Homo sapiens: one gene and its partners. The protein of the gene in region 1 interacts with the protein of each later gene in a biochemical or structural test. Each region holds a gene or a part of one and is shown in the gene's direction. Other genes may lie near its edges. The genes, in order: SUCLG2, GPR143 and SUCLG1.

Region 1 (7,330 bases):
CCTAGTCACAGGTGTTCAAGGGGGTGGAGGTCAGATTTGAATCCAATCCAGTTTGGCTGAAAACTTAATGCTTGTTCCAGGAAAGCACAGTGCAGAACTCTGGTAGAATCTAGATTCCCTGTTCTCAAAGAGATTCCTATTTGGGGGAGGTTGGAGGGTGGAAGCGGGGAGTATGAAATAGGGAGAAATCTTACGAGGAACTCTATAATGCAATTCATTCCACATATGTTTATTGATTACTTTTTCTAATCAAAGTCCAGTGCTAGACACTGGAGGTGCTACATAAATGGTTCTCTTTCTTCCTTCTGTCCCTTCTCCCCTACCACCTTCCTGCAGAGAAGGCAGAATGAGATAATACGAGTAAAGACACTGAGGAATTGCTGATGAAAGATTTGGACCCCAGAACCAAGGATGAGACAGTCTTCCAATTCAGACAGGAAAACTCTTAGGAGGCTGCTAACCCTGGAAAGACCCCAAGTTACGCACCAGTAGATAGTAAACAAATCAAAGAATACCAAATGTACTTGGATGACAATCAGAAAGCCTCTCCCGACTCCACTTTCAAAAATCCCCCCATAATAGAATAATCGCATCTTAAAAGAACACTCATCAATCAAAGACAGTCTTAAGAGTCTCTCCTTTATCTCTATAAAACTAACACTTCTTTCAAACGACTTCTAGTCTCATTTGGAAGGAAAGTGATAGTAGCCAACTCCCTTAGCATAGTAACGTCTGAATAAACAGCCTTTGATTAATTCTATAGGTGGTCTTCCTCCTTTTGGCAAAATGTTCACAAGCTCTCACCAAGTTTAAACGTTCACTCTCAAACATTAGCAAGTCTTTGCTCTATCCCGGCGGACCCAGTAGGGGTAATGATGAACAATATGGAAACTCAAATCCAGTTTTGTCAAGAGGAGGGTGCTAAGAGTGATTGGAGTCCAGCTTTGGGAAATTTGATCCCAAGCTGTGTCACCCTTGGCAAGTTACTTGACCTTAGAGTCATGTAAATGTCATGTGGAACTCTGTGGCCAAGTTTCTCTCTGGCAAAATGGGAATAATAGTAGGACCCCATTTGCAGGGCTCCTGTGAAGATTAAATGACTGAAAACAGAGGCAGCAGAGTGTATGTATCAGGAAAGAGCATCGGTTTGCCATTTAATAAAAAAGAATCCATGAGTCCACAGTGATACAAGTGAATAAAACAATTCACCGACGAATAGTGTTACAGTGAACTAAATATGGCCTAAGGAGGACTCGGTACTTCTATATTTGAGTCCTTGTGGACGAACTGCAACCTAGCTTAATAGGTAGACAAGATTGAAAACCTAACTTAGAAGTATGGACCTAAAACAACAGCTAAGTCTTGGCAATCCCAGTGGCCATATTTTAACCATTTATACATTGCTGAGTGTTCAAACTGTGTAAGGCAAATGCCAAGCTGTAACCAATCCAGCTGTTCTGTACCTCACTTCTGATTTCTGTAAGTCATTTCCCTTTTTTCCTCTATAAATCTTCTTCCACCACGTGGCTGCGCTGGAGTCTCTGTGAATCCACTGTGATTCTGGGAGCTGCCCGATTGGCGAACCGTTCATTGCTCAATTAAACTCCTTTACATTTAATTTAGCTGAAGTTTTTCTTTCATCAATGGAGATGATGGAAAGAGTGCAGTTTTTCTGAGTAGAATACAGACTAATAAATGTAGGATGGAGTTAGACCTTGCCACTTTGCCACCATCGTGACAATAATTGATTTAAACAATCATCATCATCCTTATCATCAAAAGATGCTACATCTAGTGGGTAAAACTATGTCTCGAAATGGGCTAGAAATTATATTAAAATAAAAATCCTCAGCTCCCCCACTTTCCAAAGAGAGAGATTAGGAAAGAAGCTAGTAGCAACAGCTGTCTACTTATGTCACATTGTACCTTTTTTCATGATCATATGCTCAAGAATGAGTAAGGTTAAAAAAAAAAATCTAAAATAGTGCTTAATTTGGGGGTGGGTGGAAGGGATGTGAATCTCATCTCTTATCAGACCTGCCACCTCTGGCAAGTTACTTAACCTCTGTGCACCTCAGTTTTCTCTTCTGCAAAATGGGGATTGTACACTTCTACTCATTTAAAACTTTGCTATGAAGACTAAACAAGTTTATATTTGTCTAATGCTTGGCACACATTCAGTAACTTTGCTGTTGTTTTTATTATATGCACATTGCTTAGACTCGCGTAAACTCTGTGAAAGGGAAATAATCTTGGGACTCCCAAATCACTAAGGTAAAGGGAAAAGTTAAGGTGGGAACTGCTTAGGGCAAACCTGCCTCCCATTCTATTCAAAGTCATCCCTCTGCTCACAGAGATAGACGCACAGCTGATTGCTTCCTTTGGAAAGGCCAATCAGAAACCCAAAAGAATGCAACCCTTTGTGTCTTATCTACCCATAACCTAGAAGCCCCTCCTTGCTTCCAGTTGTCTCGCTTTTCTGGACCAAACCAATGTACATTTTACATATATTGATGTCTCATATCTCCCTAAAATGTATAAAACCAAGCTGTGTCCTCCACCACACCTTGGGCACATGTCAGGACCTCCTGAGGCTGTGTCACAGGCACGTGTCCTTAACTGTGGCCAAATAAACTTCTTAAATTGATTGAGACCTGTGTCAGGTATTTGGGGTTCACAGCTCCAAATGAATGTTGCTTTTATCACTCTGATTACTGGGCTTAAAATCCTCCAATAGCTTTGTGTCCGGAATTGGTTCCTTCCCGTGGGTTCTTAATCGTCTCGCTGACTTCCAGAATGAAACTGCAGACCCTCGCGGTAAAGATGGCGTGACCAGAATTTGTTCCTGCAGATGTTCAAATGTATCTGGGGTTTCTTCCTTCCGGTGGGTTCGTGGTCTCGCTGACTTCAGGAGTGAAGCCGCAGACTTCACAGTGAGTGTTACAGCTCTTAAAGGTGGCCCGTCCGGAGTTGTTTGTTCCTGCCTGTGGGTTCGTGGTCTCGCTGACTTCACGAATGAAGCTGCAGACCTTTGCAGTGAGTGTTACAGCCCTCGAAGGTGGGGCATACGGAGTTGTTCATTCCTCCCAGTGGGTTCGCAGTCTCCCTGACCTCAGGAGTGAAACTGCAAACCTTTGTGGTGAGTGTTATAGCTCATAAGGATAGTGCGGACCCAAACAGTGAACAGCAGCAAGAGCTACTGCAAAAAGCAAAAGCACAAAGCAACCACAACCTGGAAGGAGACCCCAACTAGGGGCCACTACTGGCGCCGGTGTCCAGCTTTTATTCCCTTATTTGGCCCCACCCTCATCCTGCTGATTGGTCCATTTTACAGAGTGCCAATTGGTCCATTTTACAGAGTGCTGATTGGTCCCTTTTTAAAGAGTGCTGATTGGTGCATTTACAAACGTTTAGCTAGACACAGAGCGCTGATTGGTGCGTTTTTACAGAGTGCCGATTGGTGTGTTTACAAACCTTTAGCCAGACACAGAGCACTGATTGGTGCATTTACAATCCTTTAGCTAACAGAAAAGTTCTCCAAGTCCCCACCTGATTAGCTAGACACAGAGGGCTGGCTGGTGTATTTACAAACCTTTAGCTAGACACAGAGCGCTGATTGGTGCATTTACAATCATTTAGCTAGACAGAGAAGTTCTCCAAGTCCCCAACCGACCCACCCGGCTTCATCTCTCAGCTTTACATTGATTTTAGGTTAAGGATAGAACAAAACAAAACACCCACAACTCCTTAAGGGATGGAGAGCCTCCAATGGCCTCTCCTTGACTCACCTGAAGCCCTGGGCTGCAGGAACCTCACCTGTCTCTATTCGTTAAAGTCTCAGCTCAAACACCACTGTCCCAGATAGGCCTCGTGACCGCAGGACTAGACCACGGTTCTCTGCGGAGGGCGTCAGCTCCGTGAGCCACCCTTCCAGCACCCACTGCCATGGCGAATATTTGCTTGTTTGGCCATCCAGGGACTGTTTGAGCCCCAAGACCGCAGGGCTCGGGGTCTGTCTTTGCTCAGGACGATAACCTGGGGACTGGACAGTAGGCCCTCAGGCCTTGGGACCGCTCAAAGTGAACCGGGGCCGGGTGGGGGACCCAGGGCTCTGCAGCCTTAAGAACGCCTGTGCCCCCGGGACGCAGGGGTCAGGCCCGGCCCGGCCCAGACCGCCTCTGCCTCCTCCTCCTTTTCCTCCCCGCGCCCGCTTCTCCTCTGACCCCTCCTCCCGCTGCTCCTCCTCCGCCTCCTTCCCCTGCCCGCGCCCGCCCTACTGCCCCGTGCCGAGTTTCCTGTTTAAGATGGCGTCCCCCGTAGCAGCGCAGGCCGGGAAGCTTCTGCGAGCCCTAGCGCTGCGGCCCCGCTTCCTGGCGGCCGGGTCCCAGGTGAGCGTGGGGGCAGGAGCTGCGGGCGCCAGCAGCGGCGCCGGCCTGCCCGGGCTTCCCTCGCCCCCTGCTACTCTTGGTCTCCGCCTGACCCCCTGCGCGGCCCCTCGGGCGCCCCACTTCGGGAGGTGACGCGGCGCCGGGTCCAGGCGCAGCAGGGAACCCCGCTCCAGTGTGGGGCAGGGGCGGCGCGGCGGCAGCCCCGGGTGCCTCGGGGTATGAGCGACCCAACGCACTAGAGTCTCCGCTGTCTGCCCGCGCAGACTCATGGCGAAGGCGCTGAAGCAGGCGCTGGACGCAAGTTTAAGAAAAGTTTCTTGGACCGGGTTTTGGAGCCCTGAGGTTTTATTGTCAGCTCTACTAATTCTGCTTTTCAAACTTCTGGCACTAACCCTGAGCACGTTTAGACCACGTGATAAACATGCCTGGAAACCCGTTTCAGCCCAACTAGGAACTCACCCCCTAGGGTGAACTTCCTGCAGGCTACCTGCTTTTGCAGACTTTTAATGTGCCTGAGTTGGTCAAATCCGTGGGTCAAGGAGAAAAATGGGAAACGATCTTTCTCCTCTTTCCAATGAAAAATCAGGGCTGTCACTAAAACGCATTAGACCATTGACCCTGTCCATGTCCTCCTTGTTGATGGAGAATGAAATCAAAGAGGGTCAGTGGTGGGCTGGATAGCGATTGGAACTTGGCCTCTAGCAGATTTTTACCTTCTGCAGATGGCAAGCGTTAAAATAGTCAGAAGGACTTCAGGAAAGTTTTGAGTTGGTGATGACTCTTGTAGAAATCACTCAACCACTGAACTGGTTAGTCTCCGTAGACTATCTCTCTTCCCTTTTAAAGAAAGCACAGTCTGGGATTCAGCCACAGCAGAGTTAATGACCTTGCCTATTTCCCCATTTTTAATTGATGAGAGGCAAATTATCACTCATACAATTTTAACCAGGATGTGCATAGTATAGTTTTTTAGAAAATTTAAAAAATAGTGATTAATGATTTTTTGAGTTCCTCTAAACTTTGGTTATGACATCTGTGAGCTATTTTTACCCCTCTCCTTTCATTTCCTGCCTCCCCATTTCTCTGTTATTGTTAATGTAAATTTAAAAGGTGCTAATACTTACTACTGTAATATTCTTAATAGGTGCTTGACAGTATAGTGAGGTAGCAAAAGGAATGGCAGTTTTGTCTAATTAAAACTCACTAATAACTGTTGTAATAGAGTAAGGAGAATAGCTCTAGGAGATGAAGTCCTATTCATTATTTAAGTGTTAGAAAAAACAAGAACTAGGGTGCTTACCATGAGTGTAGACTTGAATTGATGAGAAACATGGGGCCCAGGGCAGTGAAAACTCATGAATTGTACAGAGAAACTGAAAATGCAGAGTGTTTAGCTGAAATATGTGAAGCCTACTTCCCTAACCAAGAAATAAGAGGCTGAACGCAACACAGGAGAAAATCTGGTTGGGGAGAGATACTCTTGGTTTGTCAAGAAAACTGGGTAAAAAGATCTGTTAGCACGCCCCATCTGGTTACTGTGATTTACATATTTGTGGATGATGTGTTTTTCTGTAAATTCTTAGAAGGTAAAAGTAGGTTTTTTTAAAGATAGAAAGGTACACAGTGTCCAAGAACTGGAAATGGACATTAGCAATCATTTAGTCCAGCCAGCTCATTTCATGGGTAGAGAAATTGAGGCCTAAAGAAGTTCAATGACATATTCAACGATACAGTGAGAGTTTGTGGCATTCCAGAGTAAAGGCTTACCTTTACGTTTCCGTTACACCATGCTGTTTCCTGGTGAGTATATACTTCCTCATGAAAATATATTATATCAACATGCAAATTAATCTGCATGCCAGTAGTAACTATATAACATCCAAGTCATTAGCACCACTGACACATTTTTATTTTTTTCTTTATGACCATCTTAGAATTGTCCATAAAAATGGTGAGTATTGCTATTTTCAAATTCTTGGGTGCTTCCTATGATCTGTTTCATGTACACTGATTTGATATTACGTTTCCATAGTCCCTTGCCCGTGGCAGACATTGCAGTTAAACATGGCCCACTTCTCTCATCATACTTAAGAATCCTCACCAAGTGTCTCAGAAATCTGTTGCCACTCTTGGCCCAGACCTATTTTATACCACCAGGCCTTGTGAAAAACTGTTGTCTGTACAGAAATAAAAGACCCAGTTTCTGCTTAGAGAAATAACTTTAACTGGTCTCTCAAAGATACCCATAGAATGACATTTTGTCTACCTCCTCCCTATGGTTAAATTTAACATTTGACACATATTCCTGATGCTTAGTGTCATTGAAGTTTTTTTTTTTTTTTCACCTTTGCTGTTAGCTTTACTGTTTTGACTTTTGATTGATAGTACGTCCTTAAAGGGTCCACTTTAGTCATTTCTTATTTTTCATATAGTTTTTATTCAGCCCATACCATTTGGCAGGACTGTTGTAGGCCCTGGGGTTTGGGGATGGTGAATGAGGCAGGCAGAGTCTTTGGCCACGTGATACTTTATTTTAATGGAGGTGGGAGAGAGTGAGCCAGTACACATATAACCAATAATGAAAATGATTTCAGCCAATGACAGATTCTGTGAAGAAAATCAGTCAGGGTCATGGGATGGAGAATGGATTGCTTCACAGCAGGGTAGTTTAGACTGGATGATCAGAGGAGACCTATTTGATATGGTGTGTTTTTGATTGGCATAATTTTTTAAACTGAAATATAAGACATACTGAAAAATGAACAATTACAAATGAACAACTTGATGAATTTTCATAAACTGAATGCAAACCCAGCTAACTAGGTACAGATGAAGAAAACGATCATTTAACAACAACCCAGAGGCCCCCTGGTGCTCCTGCCTGTCACTACCTCCACCCTACAAAGGGTCACCAGTCCCCTGACTTATAACGCTGGTTTTGT
Region 2 (7,297 bases), on another chromosome or scaffold:
CAGACATAAGCCACTGCACCTGGCCATGTTTTGTCTATATCAATTTAAGTATCAGTAAAACCCACTTGGAAGGCTCATTCTGAATATTAAATGAGATAATGAATGTAATATTCAAAGCATAGTGCCTGCCTACACTCCATAAATTATTTTATTATTTAAATCTTATTTATTAGGCTGGGCGCAGTGACTCACGCCTGCAATCCCCGCACTTTGGGAGGCTGAGGCGGGCGGATCACCTGAGGTCAGGAGTTCGAGACCAGCCTGGACAACTTGGCAAAACGCCGTCTGTACTCTAAATACAAAAAATAGCCAGGTGTGGTGGCAGGCGCCTGTAATCCCAGCTACTTGGGAGCCTGAGGCAGGAGAATCACTTGAACCCGGGAGGCAGAGGTTGCAGTGAGCTGAGATCGCACCACTGCACTCCAGCCTGGATGATATAGTGAGACTCCATGTCAATAAATAAATAAACAAATCTTATTTATTATTTAAATTCAAATTATTGTGAATGGCAGTCTCCTTACTTAGGCTGTTTCTGCCATCCATCTGCCCCTAGCCACCTCCTCTACTGGATTCTAAGGGATATCTGAGTCTCACCATAAACCCCATTCTTTTGGTTGAGACATCTCGATGTCAGGGGACTCACCATGAAAAATAAACTGCCTGGGAGAGAAACTCAGGAACCGTCTTCCAGCAGTTGATCAAGTGCATCTGATCAAGTGGGAATGGTGGGTAAATGGTGGATTGTGGAATGAGAGAAAGCCAAGATGATGGAGCATTTCCAGGGAACAGATGCCCCAGGCAGCCCAAACTGTGAAAATGGAGAGCGAATTCAGGTGCTAAACTGGGAAGGAGGGAAAAACGGAGGAAGGGTTCATGCAAAAACAGATGTACCTTCATGTACTCAAAGACCGATTGTTTCTGCACACATACCTCAAAGTTCATATTCAGCACCGCCATCCCTGTATCTCCCATATCTACGAAACTTCCAGATGTTTCTGCCTCCCAAGTGTGTGCGTGTGTATTTGCTTCACTTTTCTCAGATTTGTAGTTGTACTGTTTCATGAAAAGTTTTGTCAGGCCAGGCATGATGGCTCATGCCTGTAATCCCAGCACTTTGAGAGGCCAAAGCGGGTGGATCACTTGAGGCCAGGAGTTCAAGACCAGCCTGGCCAACATGACGAAACCTATCTCTACTAAAAAGACAAAAAATTAGCTGAGTGTGATGGCATGTGCCTGTGGTCCCAGCTGCTCAGGAGGCTGAGGCATGAGAATCACTTGAACCCAGGAGGCAGAGATTGCAGTGAGCTGAGATCACGCCACTGCACTCCAGCCTGGGCAATGGAGCAAGACTCTGTCTCAAAGGAAAAAAAAAAAAAAAGTTTGTCATCTCAGTTCACCCAAGCTGGAGTTTGGTGGTGCAATCACAGCTCACTGCAACCTCAAACTCCTGGGCTCAAGTGATCCTCCCACCTCATCCTCCCCAGTAGCTGCAACTACAGGTGCGCAGCAGCACGCTCTGCTAATTTGAGATGTGTCGTCTTCCTCTAGGGACAGCAGGACTGGCCTTCCCTTGGGACCCCACAGAAGGCAGGCAGGAGGCTCCACTGCCAGACAGGAAGCAGAGCCTTATTTAACAACAATGAGCTGCAAACTCCACCACTTCAAAAGATGCTGCTCCTAGAGGAAGACGCTAGAGATGGGCTCTCACTATGTTGCCCAGGATGGTCTCAAACTCTTGGGCTCAAGTAATCCTCCTGCCTCAGCCTCCTTAAGTGCTGAGATTACAGGTGTGAGCCACTGGGCCCAGCCTCTCATACCAATTTCTAGTTCCCTCTCACTTTGATGACAGGGTTTTAAATTTAGTCTTACACTCATGCTTCTGCACCTTTACTCTGAGGCTCATCTTTACCATTGTCATCTGTGCCATGGCCCTAGGAATCTGCATTCATATCCATTTTCTCACTGATGAGATTCTGACTACTGAGCTTGAGTAGTGGGCACCAGAGTCAGCCAGAGCCCCCTGGAGAGTACTCCCAGGTTATCACGTAGGAAGCAGAGAGGCGGAGTGTGTTTTCTGGGGCATGAAACAGTGACTCAAATGCAGGGACCCCTTTGCCTGGCCCACTGGCCCTCAACCTTCAGGCAAATGTACAGACACTCTTCATTTTTATCTTTTAAAGCACTTTCCATTACACTAACCTCCAGAAGCAACTCTGCTTACCAAGGCAGAAGGAAAGAGAGCCACTGTCCAAATTAGATATTAGAATTCAAGCTTTTAAACATTAATGCTTGGGGAGTAGTTCTATGGTGCTTCTGACTGTTTTTACAATGGAGTGTGTAATCCAGCAGAGCTGTTAAGCTTTCTGAAGATGTCAGTCTGTTCTGACTTCTAGGAAGGCAGCTGTGGAGTGAACAGGCTGCGTTTATAGACGTGCCAGATCTGGACTCTTTTGAAGTGGTGGAGTTTGCACCTCATTGTTGTTAAATAAGGCTCCGCTTCCTGTCTGGCAGTGGAGCCTCCCGCCTGCCTTCTGTGGGGTCCCAAGGGAAGGCCAGTCCTGCTATCCCTAGAGGAAGACGGCACAGATCATGCCTTCCTTAAAACCGCAAAGCTGGTGGGGAGAACAAGTGAGGAAAGTCCATGAACACAATGGGGACACCTGCACCTTGGTTGCTTGAAAAAAACCCAGAGAGGGGCCCATTTTACCAGGAGAGAGGAGGAAGGGTGTCTCTTGTGTGGTCACAAAGAGCCAATGAGGTTTGTTGAAGATGATAAATATGATGGAGCTGGATTTTTTTTTCTTTTCTTTTTTTAAAATAAAGGCCATAATCTAGAAGGAGCACTTCTATTTTCAGCCTTGAAGAACTTAAAAAAAAAAATCTTAGTATGCTTACTGTAATCATTAACACAATATTACTTGGAAACTTACATGTATAGAATAAAGCAAGATTTTCAATGTATGAGAAAACATAGAAAAATTAACGCAGTTAAGAAAAATCCAAATAAATAGAACTGAAAGTTAAGGTGCAAAATGTGTCTGTGTGTACTTATGCTGAGTACTTTTCCCTTTATTTTTTTAATGTTTTTAAATTTTAAACTTAATTCTGTGTGTGTGTGTGTGTGTGTGTGTGTGTGTGTGTGTGTGTGTGAGAGAGAGAGATAGGGTCTCACTCCATTGCTCAGGCTGGAGTGCAGTGGTGTAATCTCTGCTCACTGCAACCTCCACTTGCCGGGCTCAAGTGATCCTCCCACCTCAGCCTCCCCAGAAGCTAGGGCTACAAGCACGCCCCACCACATCCAGCTAATTTTTGTTTTGTTTCGTTTTTTGATACAAGGTCTGGCTCTATCGCTCAGGCTGGAGTGCAGTGGCACTATCTTGGCTCACTGCAAACTCCACCTCCTGGGCTCAAGCGATCCTCCCACCTCAGCCTGCCGAGTAGCTTGGATCACAGGCCTGGGCCACCACACCGGGCTAATGTTTGTATTTTTAATAGAGGTGGGGTTTCGCCATGTTGCCCACGCTGGTCTCCAACTCTTGAGCTCAAGCGATCTGCCTGCCTCGGCCTCCCAAGGTGCTGGGATTACAGGTGTGAGCTACTGCTCTTTCTTTAACATTGATCTGTTTGTTTCATTCATTAATTGTAAACGAAAATCCTGCCTCTGTGGGATTATATCCATGAATGAGAGAGGCCATAAAAAAAAGCACTAATTGGACAACCATCTCTACTTAGGAAAAAAGCAGTTACAGGGATCAGTCACAGTTTATGAACATGTTCTGGCGCCTTAAAGGCATCAAAATCAGGATGTCAGAGTCCCAAATAGGAAAGATCTAGTCCACGAGGCCTGTTTCTCTAGAAGACCAGTAAAGATGGCAGGTTTGGCGCTCTAGGTGGCAGAGAAACCACCAGGAAGGCTTGGTGAATGGGGAGAAAGGTAACCTTCCCAACCTTTCTGCTTCTCCTTCCACTTCCCTCCTCCTCCTCCCTCTTCCTCTCCTCTCAGCCCTCCCTCTCTCTGTCCTCCTCCTCCGCCCGCCCAAGCATCACCTCGTGAGGCCTCGTGGCGTTAGCCCAGTGCTCTCGGCCCCCACCGAGCCTGGCTCTACTGCAGGCGCTGGGGGTTGGGGTGGGGGAGAGGCCCAGGGCACATGATGCCGCCCCCAGCCCGCCCAGCACATGACCCAGGCAGGCCGGCGGGGTCCTGGCACACCCGAGCCGCGTCCGCGAACACAGCCCATGGCCTCCCCGCGCCTAGGGACCTTCTGCTGCCCCACGCGGGACGCAGCCACGCAGCTCGTGCTGAGCTTCCAGCCGCGGGCCTTCCACGCGCTCTGCCTGGGCAGCGGCGGGCTCCGCTTGGCGCTGGGCCTTCTGCAGCTGCTGCCCGGCCGCCGGCCCGCGGGCCCCGGGTCCCCCGCGACGTCCCCGCCGGCCTCGGTCCGCATCCTGCGCGCTGCCGCTGCCTGCGACCTTCTCGGCTGCCTGGGTAAGGGCGCGCGCGGCCCGCGGGTTGGAATCTGATCAGCGCCTGGGTGAGGGCGCGTGGCCCGCAGGTTGAGACCCGACTGGTGCCCGGATAAGGGCGCACGGCCTGTGGATTTGGACCTGTTCCGTGATGGAGTGAGGACGAGAGGCCCGCGGGTTGGAACCTGCCCGGTGCAGGGCTGAGGGCGCGTAGCTGGCTGGTTGGGACCTGCTCGGTCCCCGGCTGAGGGCTTGAGGCCCGCGGGTTGGGACCTGCTCAGTGCTGGGGTGAGGGCGTGAGGCCCTGGGGTTGGGACCTGCTCAATCCCCGGGTGAGAGTGCGTGGCCCGCAGGTTGAGACCGGATCGATGCCCGGGTGAGGGCGCATGGCCCGCAGGTTGGAACTCGATCCACTCGGGTTGGAACTTGATCGGTGCCCGGGTGATGGCGCACGGCTAGCGGGTTGGGCTGGCCGTCTTAACACTTGAACCACAGAGAAAAGAGAAAGCGGAGGCTGTTCCCTAGGGACCGGATGGGACAACTAGGTAATTTTTTTTTTTTTTTTTGAGACGGAGTCTTGCTCTGTCGCCCAGACTGAAGTGCAGTGGCGCAATCTCGGCTCACTGCAACCTCCACCTCCCGGGTTCAAGGGATTCTCTTGCCTCAGCCTCCCGAGTAGCTGGGGGAGGCGCGCGCCACCATGCCCGACTAATTTTTGTATTTTTAGTAGAGACGGAGTTTCACCATGTTGGCCAGGCTGCTCTCGAACTCCTGACCTCAGGTAATCCACCCGCCTCGGCCTCCCAAAGTGCTGGGATTACAGGCGTAAGCCACCGCGCCCGGCCGACTAGGTAGTTTTGCAAACACATGGTCGGTAAAATTCCCATCCAAGGGACGTTGGGTTTTAAAAAATCCGTTTATTGTGTTTGTTATATGGAAACTTCAGATGGCGCAGTTAAGCAAAACCCAGACCAGAAAAGATTTCCTCATTTTTGCCCAACTGCACCAGGGAGAGACTAACAATTAACTTCTCTCTGTCTCGCTCTGTGTGTGTGTGTGTGTGTGTGTGTGTGTGTGTGTGTGTGCGCGTGTGTAAATTCTTTTCTATTGTGCACTATATATTCTCTCGAGTATTTTGTAAGCTGAAATCCCTTCCCTATCCAGGCTTTTTGGGTATGGTTTTTACACCACAGGTGCGCAAACTGCAGCCCTCAGACCAAATCCTGCCCGTTTTCTAGGGTCCACGAGCTAAGAATGGTTTTACATCCTACTTTTTAAAAAATTAATGATTTTGTTTTTTGAGACAGGGTCTCACCCTCTTGCCCAGGTTGAGTGCAGTGTCACAATCACAGCTCACTGCAGCCTCGACCTCCTGGGTTCAAGCGATCCTCCCACCTCAGCTACCCGAGTAGCTGGGACTACAGCCACACGCCACCATGCTAGGGTAAATATATGTGGGGTCTCACTATGTTGCCCAGGCTGGTCTCCAACTCCTGGGCTTAATTAAAAGATCACCACCCTTGGCATCGTAAAGTGTTAGGATTACAGGCGTGAGCCACCTCACCCAGCCCTAAAATGTTTTTAAAAATCAAAATTAAAAAATATTTCCTGGCATGTGACTATTACTGAAATTTAAATGTTAATGTCTACAAATAAAGTTTGATGGGAACGCAGCTATGTTGTTCATGTGCATTTGTGAATTATTCATGGCTGCCTTTACCCTACAAGGGCAGGGTGAATATTGGACTGAGAAAGTATGGCTCCCAAAGCCAAAAATATTAAGAATGAGTTTGCCAACATCTGCTTTAAACTATTATGTGACACTTTATACAGACCTCTCAGCTAGATTTGGCCATTCTGTTTAGCTTTTTGGAACATTTCCACCATGCGTAAATGCAGTCTATAATAGAAACACTTACAGTGAATCCCTGTACGTGGGATTCGTGAGGTACGGGTACCCGGCTCATCTGCTCCCCTCTTCACCCTCCTCACTGGATTAATGTGAAGCCAATCTCAGGCTCCATCATCCTGCCCATTCAGATCTCAGAGAGAGCCCTAAAACATAATAATTCTAAACATTTGCAACCCCAATATCATTATCACTTTATTTTTGAGACAGGGTCTCACTCTGTTGCCCAGGTTGGAGTGTGCTGGCATGATCATAGCTCACTGCAGCCTCGAACTTCTAGGCTCAAGGGATCCTCCTACCTCAGCCTCCTGAGCAGCTGGAACTACAGGCATGCATCACCACACTGGCTAATTTTTGCATTATTTTTTCAGAGCTGGAGTCTCACCATCTTGCCCAGGCTGGTCAAACTTCTAGGCTCAAGCGATCCTCCTACTTCGGCCTCCTAAAGGTGCGGTGGCTCACGCCTGTAATCCTAACTACTCAGGAGGCTGTGGTGGACGGATTGCTTGAACCCAGGAGTTCAAGACTAGCCTGGGCAACGTAACGAGACCCAGGCTCTACCCCCAAGAAAAAAAAAACAACAAAAAAAAGGCCCGTCATGGTGGGATGCACATGTGGTCCCAGCTACTCACCAGGCTGAGGCAGGAGGACCATTTGAGCCCAGGAATTCCAGGCTAGAGTGAGCTACGATCCAGCCTGGGTGACAGCCAAGACCCTGTCTCTAAAAAAGTAAGGTGTACCCAAACATCTTTTGAGGGTTAGTGAATAATACTTGCATATCCTTTAGCCTTTAGAAGGGAAGTGGATGAGGTTGCGAGCAAATAAGCAGAAGTCAGGAAAAGGCTGGGTGATCGGGACCCCTTACTGAAAAATAAGAAATTTCAATGCCCATGGGATAGGGCTTTTATTAAGCTCAAAGGAGTG
Region 3 (7,108 bases), on another chromosome or scaffold:
CGGCAGATGAGGAAATCCCAAAAGTTTCCAGTGAGTATCAGAAGTGATACTAGCACCCAGGTCTTCTGACTCTGCAGTATCCTTTCCGCCAGCATGTACCATGTGATAACTTAAGCTTTTTTCGAAGCTCTGATTTTTTTTTGGCAGTCTTAGTGATGTGTTGAGAAGGTGACTATCCTGCTCAAAGGTGTTGCCTTCCTTTTCCCCGTGTTTGCCAAGTGCGTAGGCCTGTTTTTCGAATCAGAGATGCATTTAAAGTGTAGTTTGGAAAATGAGATCCTCAACAGTGATGTTGTGGATATTAGCATCTGTTGCCATTGCATGTAATAACCAAATCTTTATTTCAGAAATACAAAATAGCCTTGATTCAGATGTACCAGTGTAGCCATGAGAAAGTGATTTGATTTTCTGACATCAAATTTGTTTCTCCATAGAAATGTAATTGGGAATATTAAAAATAATTTAAGTACAGGGCAACAATTTCATTTCATCAGGGGACTGGCATACCATAGACCCACATTTTTTTTTTTTTTTTTTGTTTTGAGACGGAGTCTTGCTCTGTCGCCCAGGCTGGAGTGCAGTGGCGTGATCTCTGCTCACTGCAAGCTCCGCCTCCCAGGTTCAAGCCGTTCTCCTGCCTCAGCCTCCCCAGTAGCTGGGACTACAGGCACCCGCCACCACACCTGGCTAATTTTTTTGTATTTTTAGTAGAGATGGGGTTTCACTGTGTTAGCCAGGATGGTCTCGATCTCCTGACATTGTGATCCGCCCACCTCAGCCTCCCAAAGTGCTGGGATTACAGGCGTGATAGACCCACATTTTTTTACATTATAACATTTCTTACATTAGGTTGTGTCTTATTACTGATATATATGTTTTTTTTGAGACAGAGTTTTGCTCTTATTGCTCAGGCTGGAGTGCAATGGCACAATCTCAGCTCACCGCATCCTCTGCCTCCTGGGCTCAAGCCATTCTCCTGCCTCAGCCTCCCGACTAGCTGGGATTACAGGCATGTGCCACCATGTCCGGCTAATTTTGTATTTTTAGTAGAGACGGGGTTTCTCCATGTTGGTCAGGCTGGTCTCAAACTCCTGACCTCAGGTGATCCGCCCGCCTCATTTTTTCTTTTTTACCAGTAATTAATAGTACTTCTTAAAAATCAATGGTGTTTTATATTTGATGAAATATGGTACTTACAGCTTATTAAACTTCACTCGTAAGTCAATATTAAATGAATATATAATTTAACATTTGAATAGTGGGTTGTTTGGAGTTTAGGGGTAAGTGGCTGCTAGCTACTCTGCTGTATTATAAGGTCCTGTAGGTGTAGACTGCAGTAGCCTGTGTCTTACATATGCATAATACATATGGTTAATAAGTGTACATTTGTTAAATTCATGAGTACGTGCACGAATAAATGTTTACCAGGGACACAGTTTGAGAGGTGAGTTGAAGGAGTATTGAGTATTTCATGAATAGAGCCTTGGGTTATTGGTTAGGAGCATGGTACTGGTCATACAAGGCCCATGGTTTGAGTCTCTCCTGGGCAGGTGCTCTTTGACCATAGATTGCATCATTCATCCCACCAGCCATTTTATAAATGATGTGTTACTATCTGTGGTAAAGAGGACCAGTATGTGGCTGACAGGTACAAATCTATCACCCCTGTTGAAAACACATCTCTCTCAGATTACTCAGCCTCTTTCCTTCATTGTCTTTATTACAGTTTGTACTGTTGGTAGTTTTGTTTTTTTTTGTGCAATGTTTAGCTCTTTTACAGGGCAGGAAACTTCATGTGGGTAGGGCCTGAGCCTGTCTTGTTCACCTGTGAATCCCTAGCACCTGACAGATAGCCTGTCACAGTCAACATCTCAAAGCAGTTTGGTCTGCTCATTCTGCATCGGTAATAATAACGCTAATAAAAAGCTCTTAGGGATATAACACTTGCTGTATCTGTTTTAAATGCTTTATATATTACTAACTCATTTAATTCTCACATCAGCCTATGAAGGAGATACTATTATTGTCCGTGTTTTACAGTGAGGGCTGCGCCTTTACAAATGTATTATATGTTAAAAACTTAGAGGTATATTTGTGCATACTGCACATTATATGCAGACATGGATTAGTATGTTTATAAATAAACATATAAGATGTACACAAGGACATGTAGAAAACATTTTTGGCTAGACTTATTTGATTTTAAAATATGAACTATTTTTTCTCTCTTTTTAGGGATAGATTTGCCTTTGTGTTCATGTAGGGTTGTAAACCCAGTTTTGGGAGTGTACCAGAGACTGTGCTACCTGGTGCCAATTTAAGGAGTAATTTCATATTAATATCACAGCCTCCCAGGGGCAGCTGTTATTCCACTTCTAGATGGGAAGACTAAGGCTAAGGGAGATCAAAAGGTATGCTCTGGGTTACATGGCTGCTGGAAGGCAGAGCATAAACTCAAGACCAGGCCTGTCTGATTCCTGCGATGATGTTCTCAGCTGCTCCTGGGACGCAGTCCCAAGGTTAAGCTGGACAATTTCTAAGAATCTGGAAAGAAGGAGGTGGCCTAGGATGTGGCAACTACAGCATTCGCCATCAGAAATTTTTCCTGGTGGCCAACCTCACCTTTCCTGCTCTAATATTTAATTTAAAATACTTATTTTCGGCTGGGCATGGTGGCTCCTGCCTGTAATCCCAGCACTTTGGGAGGCCAAGGCAGGCGGATCACTTGAGGTCAGGAGTTTGAGACCAGCCTGGCCAACATGGTGAAACCCCGTCTCTACTAAAAGTACAAAAAAATTAGCTGGGTGTAGTGATGTGGGCCTATAGTCCCAGATACTCAGGAGGCTGAGGCAGGAGAATTGCTTGAACCCGAGAGGTGGAGGTTGCAGTGAGCCGGGATCGTGCCACTGCACTCCAGCCTGGGCTGCAGAGTAAAACAACGTCTCAAAAAAAATAATAATAATACTTATTTTCTTCTTATTAGTAAAGCTAGGCATCTCATCATATATGGATTTGCAGTTTGTCATCCATTGTGTTTCTTGTTCATGGCCTTTATCAGTTTTTCTCTTAGGCTTTGGGCTCCACTTTTTGTTGGCTCTTCATGTTGCTCACGTTAATTCCTTGTCTGTTAAATGTTAGGAAAACACTCCCCTGGTCTGTCATTGCCTTTAACTCTGCCTATGGTGTGTTTCACTCTGTCTGAATGCTTGCTTTTTTCATGTAGGTAAAGATTCAATTTGTATTATTGCTTTTGGGTTTTATTTATTTAAAAAAATGTCAGCATGGCGTTTGTACTAGATTAATGTAGCTTTGGGGACCGCCAGAAGCATTTTAGGGCCGAACTTCCATGCAGTCTCTATATGAATTTTAGGGAAACCTATGATCTTTATATGTACAAAAATAGATATAGGGTTCTTTTCCCTCTTTGCTGATACGTGGGAGTTCAAGATTGACTTTTTCCAACTCACCGAAAAAGAGACGAACCTTATGGTGTTTAGCTTGGTAGAAGTGTTTCTTTTGGAGACCCTGTTTCTTGTCCTGGAATTCAGTGAAATGTTTCCCATAGACCTACTGTGTGTAAGGCACTGACCATATACCATAGGAGACAAGATGAGTAAGACATGGTCCTGACACTCATGGAGTTTACAGTTAGCAGTGGGAAAAGTATTTAGATGGTACTTGAAATAGTCTTGAAATAAATTTAAGCTTAGATAATTTCACTTAAAAATAACATGATGAAAAGAGTAAGAATATGTGTGCACTCAGTAATGTAGTGTGTGATGGTGTTTATTGTATACCCACATGAAAGCGTTTGTAGCTTCTATTCTTCTTAATCTCAGATCCCTTTTAAAGTCCCCCAGTATACTCATAAATCATGTATATCGTGTGAAGATATAGGAATTCTTGACTGTGTAATGTTTTATTTAAATGTTAATTTATATGGATCAATGTAAGTGAAATTCTCAGAAAGTTGAGGACATTAAATCTTTAATTGAAAGGTAAGAGATATTTGCAAGATGGTTTGGCCACCAATGTATGCCTTGTGTTCTAAATTTCACTTTAGGAAGTCACTTACTGTAGTAATTTGGTGGCTTTGTCACCCTCCCCACCTCTTACACATTCATAGACTTCTCTACCTTGAATAGGTGTGGGGAGTTTATCCACCCCAAATGCCCAAGGCTTTTTTTTTTTTTTATTATAGTACTTCACACACCACGCAGTTATGGCCCACTTTTATATGAGTTCAGATAGATTGTGAATTATTTGAGGGCTGAGACACTGTCATTCATCACTTTATCCTTGACACCTGACATTATGGCTTGGTATGGGTGCTCCTCAAATGTTGATTGAATCAATGAACGAACTCACATTTCAGTACCAGATGATAACCTTGTCTGGCATCATACAGGTTTATTGTCAGGATGGAATGTGATCAGGAATTTCACTTCCTTGCCATTGAATACATTTCTTGGATTTGCCTGTAAGACGATAATAGTCTGTTAGTTCCAGCTTATCTAGAAGTGGGTCTGTATGAGCCCAGGCCTGGTGTGTAGATGGGGAGATCACACATGCATGAGCGCACACACATCTACACCTGTGCATTAGAGGTTTCCCAAGATTTAGTTAATTAGATGCTGCAGGCTCTCAGGGGCATTGCACAGGCTGAGTAACACTAAAAGGCTAGGGGATTGGGAGGTAAGCTGCTGTTTATCACACTTCTGATACACTTTTTATGAGCACCAAAGATCTGATGTTGTAAAATCTTGAGCTCCATAGAATTGATCCAGGAGATCTGGAGTTACTACGAGAAAGCAGAGATCTTCGTTGGTCTGTTATTGGAGCTGTGCTTTAGGGACACAGACAGACCTGCCTTTTCTCAGGGTGACTTCTGCTCCTGTGGAAGGAGAAGTGAATTGTCTGATCTTTGTTAAGTTAGTGAGTATAAGAGTACTTGTGCAGAACCAAACTTTACCTACAAAAAGTATTTTATGTTAACAAGTAGGGACTCCAGATATCCTGATCATAACATCTGATCTTATAATCAAATCTTCTACCTTCTGGTCTGAAAACATATGGTATGATATGATATGATATGATATGAGCATTTGTTGAAGATGCAATGGGAGGGACTGGTAAAGCCAATTCCACTAGTCAGAAATTGTAGCAGGGTAGGAAAGGGTGTAGCTTCTACACAAATACCATGGTTGTAGGTGTTCAGCTGGGAGAAGTGGAAGCCAAGGGCAAGAATGGGTCTCGAATGCAGCACTGGCAAGGGTGGGCTGTGCTGCACAGCTCAGTAGGGACAGGGTCTCAGGCCATAAATCCCTGCTGTGTCCACTGGCCTAGAGTCAGATGCTTAGCTGTGACTGATGTGCCAGAACTTGACCTGCAAAGCCCATGGCCCCTTGTTGAGCACAGTCTAGTATGAGAAAGCTGCCTGTTACGTAGCAGTTCTTTGTGTGTACCAAATATTATCCAGGTGGTAAGGGCTAAATCTGGGCCTGTCTTCTCCCTAGAGGTGTAAGGGATTCCATATACTTCCTCCAGAAGCAGATGTTGTTGCTCTTTCAGTTATGTAATGTGAGGTCAGGACTTAGGTGGGTATGAGGCAGTGATTTAAGGCAGAAAGCATGGAGTGGACTCTGGGCAAATATGTGACAGGTGTTCTTTTTTTGTTGTTCAATAGAGATTACTCCTTATGTTCTTTTCTTGGGCTAGCTTCATGGGCTACCACAATGATAGGTAGAAGGCCTGGCTACTTTGAAAGGGCCAGGGATGGGCCACAGAGAAGTCAGGTTGTTAGTATTAATGGACATTTAGAAGGTAGCCCAAAATTTTAAGTCATCTATGTTCCTCCTACTGTGTTTTGAAATGTGGGGAGCTGGTTGTAGTAACTATTTAGATTTCTCAATTTCTCTTTTAGGTAGGTTGCTGCAATAACCTAGGGTTTTTTTTTTTTTTTTTTCCTAACAAGCTTTTTCCTGTCTTGTCTACTTTCCTATTTGTTTTATTTTCCCTGTGTCTTTTATACATGAGTTCATATCAGAAGAGATTAAGTGATTTTGTATTATATTTTAGATAAGTTTTATCCTATGACTTAACATTTAATATGTTGTTCTTACTAGAGAATGAGTTGCTGAGTGATTTTTACTTGTATTCCTGACAAAGTTTGCCTCTTAGCTTACCTATTTAAAGGTATTAGGCTTTAAAAATTTGGGTCAAGTGGGGAAACGTGGCTGTTTAGTAAACATTGTTAATAGGGGTGACATTTTGTTTTCAGTCCCTGGATTTAATTTTAACCATTTATCTTTGAGCCCCAGTTTTTTTCTAGGAAATAAAAATGATAAACATTGCTTTTTTTTCCCTCAGTTCAGGAAAAAACTACAAGATCGTGGTTCTTGATAAAGAGAGGATCCTGGAGAATGGAACAATGTCTTGTCTGTTTTTCTTATTTCTGTGGTCACTGTGTCTTATTTAAAAGGTGGCATTTAGGTTTGCCGTGATCACAGGATAGCGCGTGCATTAAAGAATTTTTTTTTTGTGATCAAGTTGAATTATTGTTCAAAAGTTTAGAAAAATTATAATGTGTCTTTTTTTTTTTTTTTTTTTTTTTTTAACCTCTTAGTGCCGCAGAATGGAATTCGGCATTGTTCCTACACAGCTTCTCGGCAACATCTCTATGTTGATAAAAATACAAAGATTATTTGCCAGGGTTTCACTGGCAAACAGGTATGTATATCTAGATTTTTATTTTCAAATGTAGACTAGAGATATAACAAATTAACTATTTTTTTATTTTTAATATCTCAAAAATAACACATGATTGTTGCAGAAAAATATACTGTACAGCAATGGGGTTGTATCTCAGGAGGAGGTTAGTTGCTATTGTCAGCCTATAACATAAAAATTGTGTTTAAACTTACCTTGCAAAGGAGTATATTGTATGCTTACTAGGAGTATATTGTTTTGGAGGCCCATACACTTTCTTTCAGCAAATACAACACTAATGATTTTCCTCCAGTGTTGAAAGAGATCACCGTTTCTTTGACTAAGCACTAGGTCAACTAGATTCTTGTGTTTAGGTTTTGTACAAACAGACAAAAAACCG

What was found.
Region 2: the proteins of SUCLG2 (region 1) and GPR143 form a complex in vitro, tested with the Homo sapiens proteins (one study listed by BioGRID).
Region 3: the proteins of SUCLG2 (region 1) and SUCLG1 are reported together in a solved structure, tested with the Homo sapiens proteins (one study listed by IntAct).

Annotation. Positions count from the first base shown.
Region 1 is NC_000003.12:67,651,561-67,658,890, reverse strand, and holds the start of SUCLG2 (succinate--CoA ligase [GDP-forming] subunit beta, mitochondrial isoform 2 precursor), read left to right. Parts: upstream 1-4,278; 5' UTR 4,279-4,304; coding exon 4,305-4,388; intron 4,389-7,330. UniProt on the Homo sapiens protein: GTP-specific succinyl-CoA synthetase functions in the citric acid cycle (TCA), coupling the hydrolysis of succinyl-CoA to the synthesis of GTP and thus represents the only step of substrate-level phosphorylation in the TCA.
Region 2 is NC_000023.11:9,762,757-9,770,053, reverse strand, and holds the start of GPR143 (G-protein coupled receptor 143), read left to right. Parts: upstream 1-4,206; 5' UTR 4,207-4,236; coding exon 4,237-4,486; intron 4,487-7,297. UniProt on the Homo sapiens protein: Receptor for tyrosine, L-DOPA and dopamine.
Region 3 is NC_000002.12:84,449,270-84,456,377, reverse strand, and holds part of SUCLG1 (succinate--CoA ligase [ADP/GDP-forming] subunit alpha, mitochondrial precursor), read left to right. Parts: intron 1-6,625; coding exon 6,626-6,729; intron 6,730-7,108. UniProt on the Homo sapiens protein: Succinyl-CoA synthetase functions in the citric acid cycle (TCA), coupling the hydrolysis of succinyl-CoA to the synthesis of either ATP or GTP and thus represents the only step of substrate-level phosphorylation in the TCA.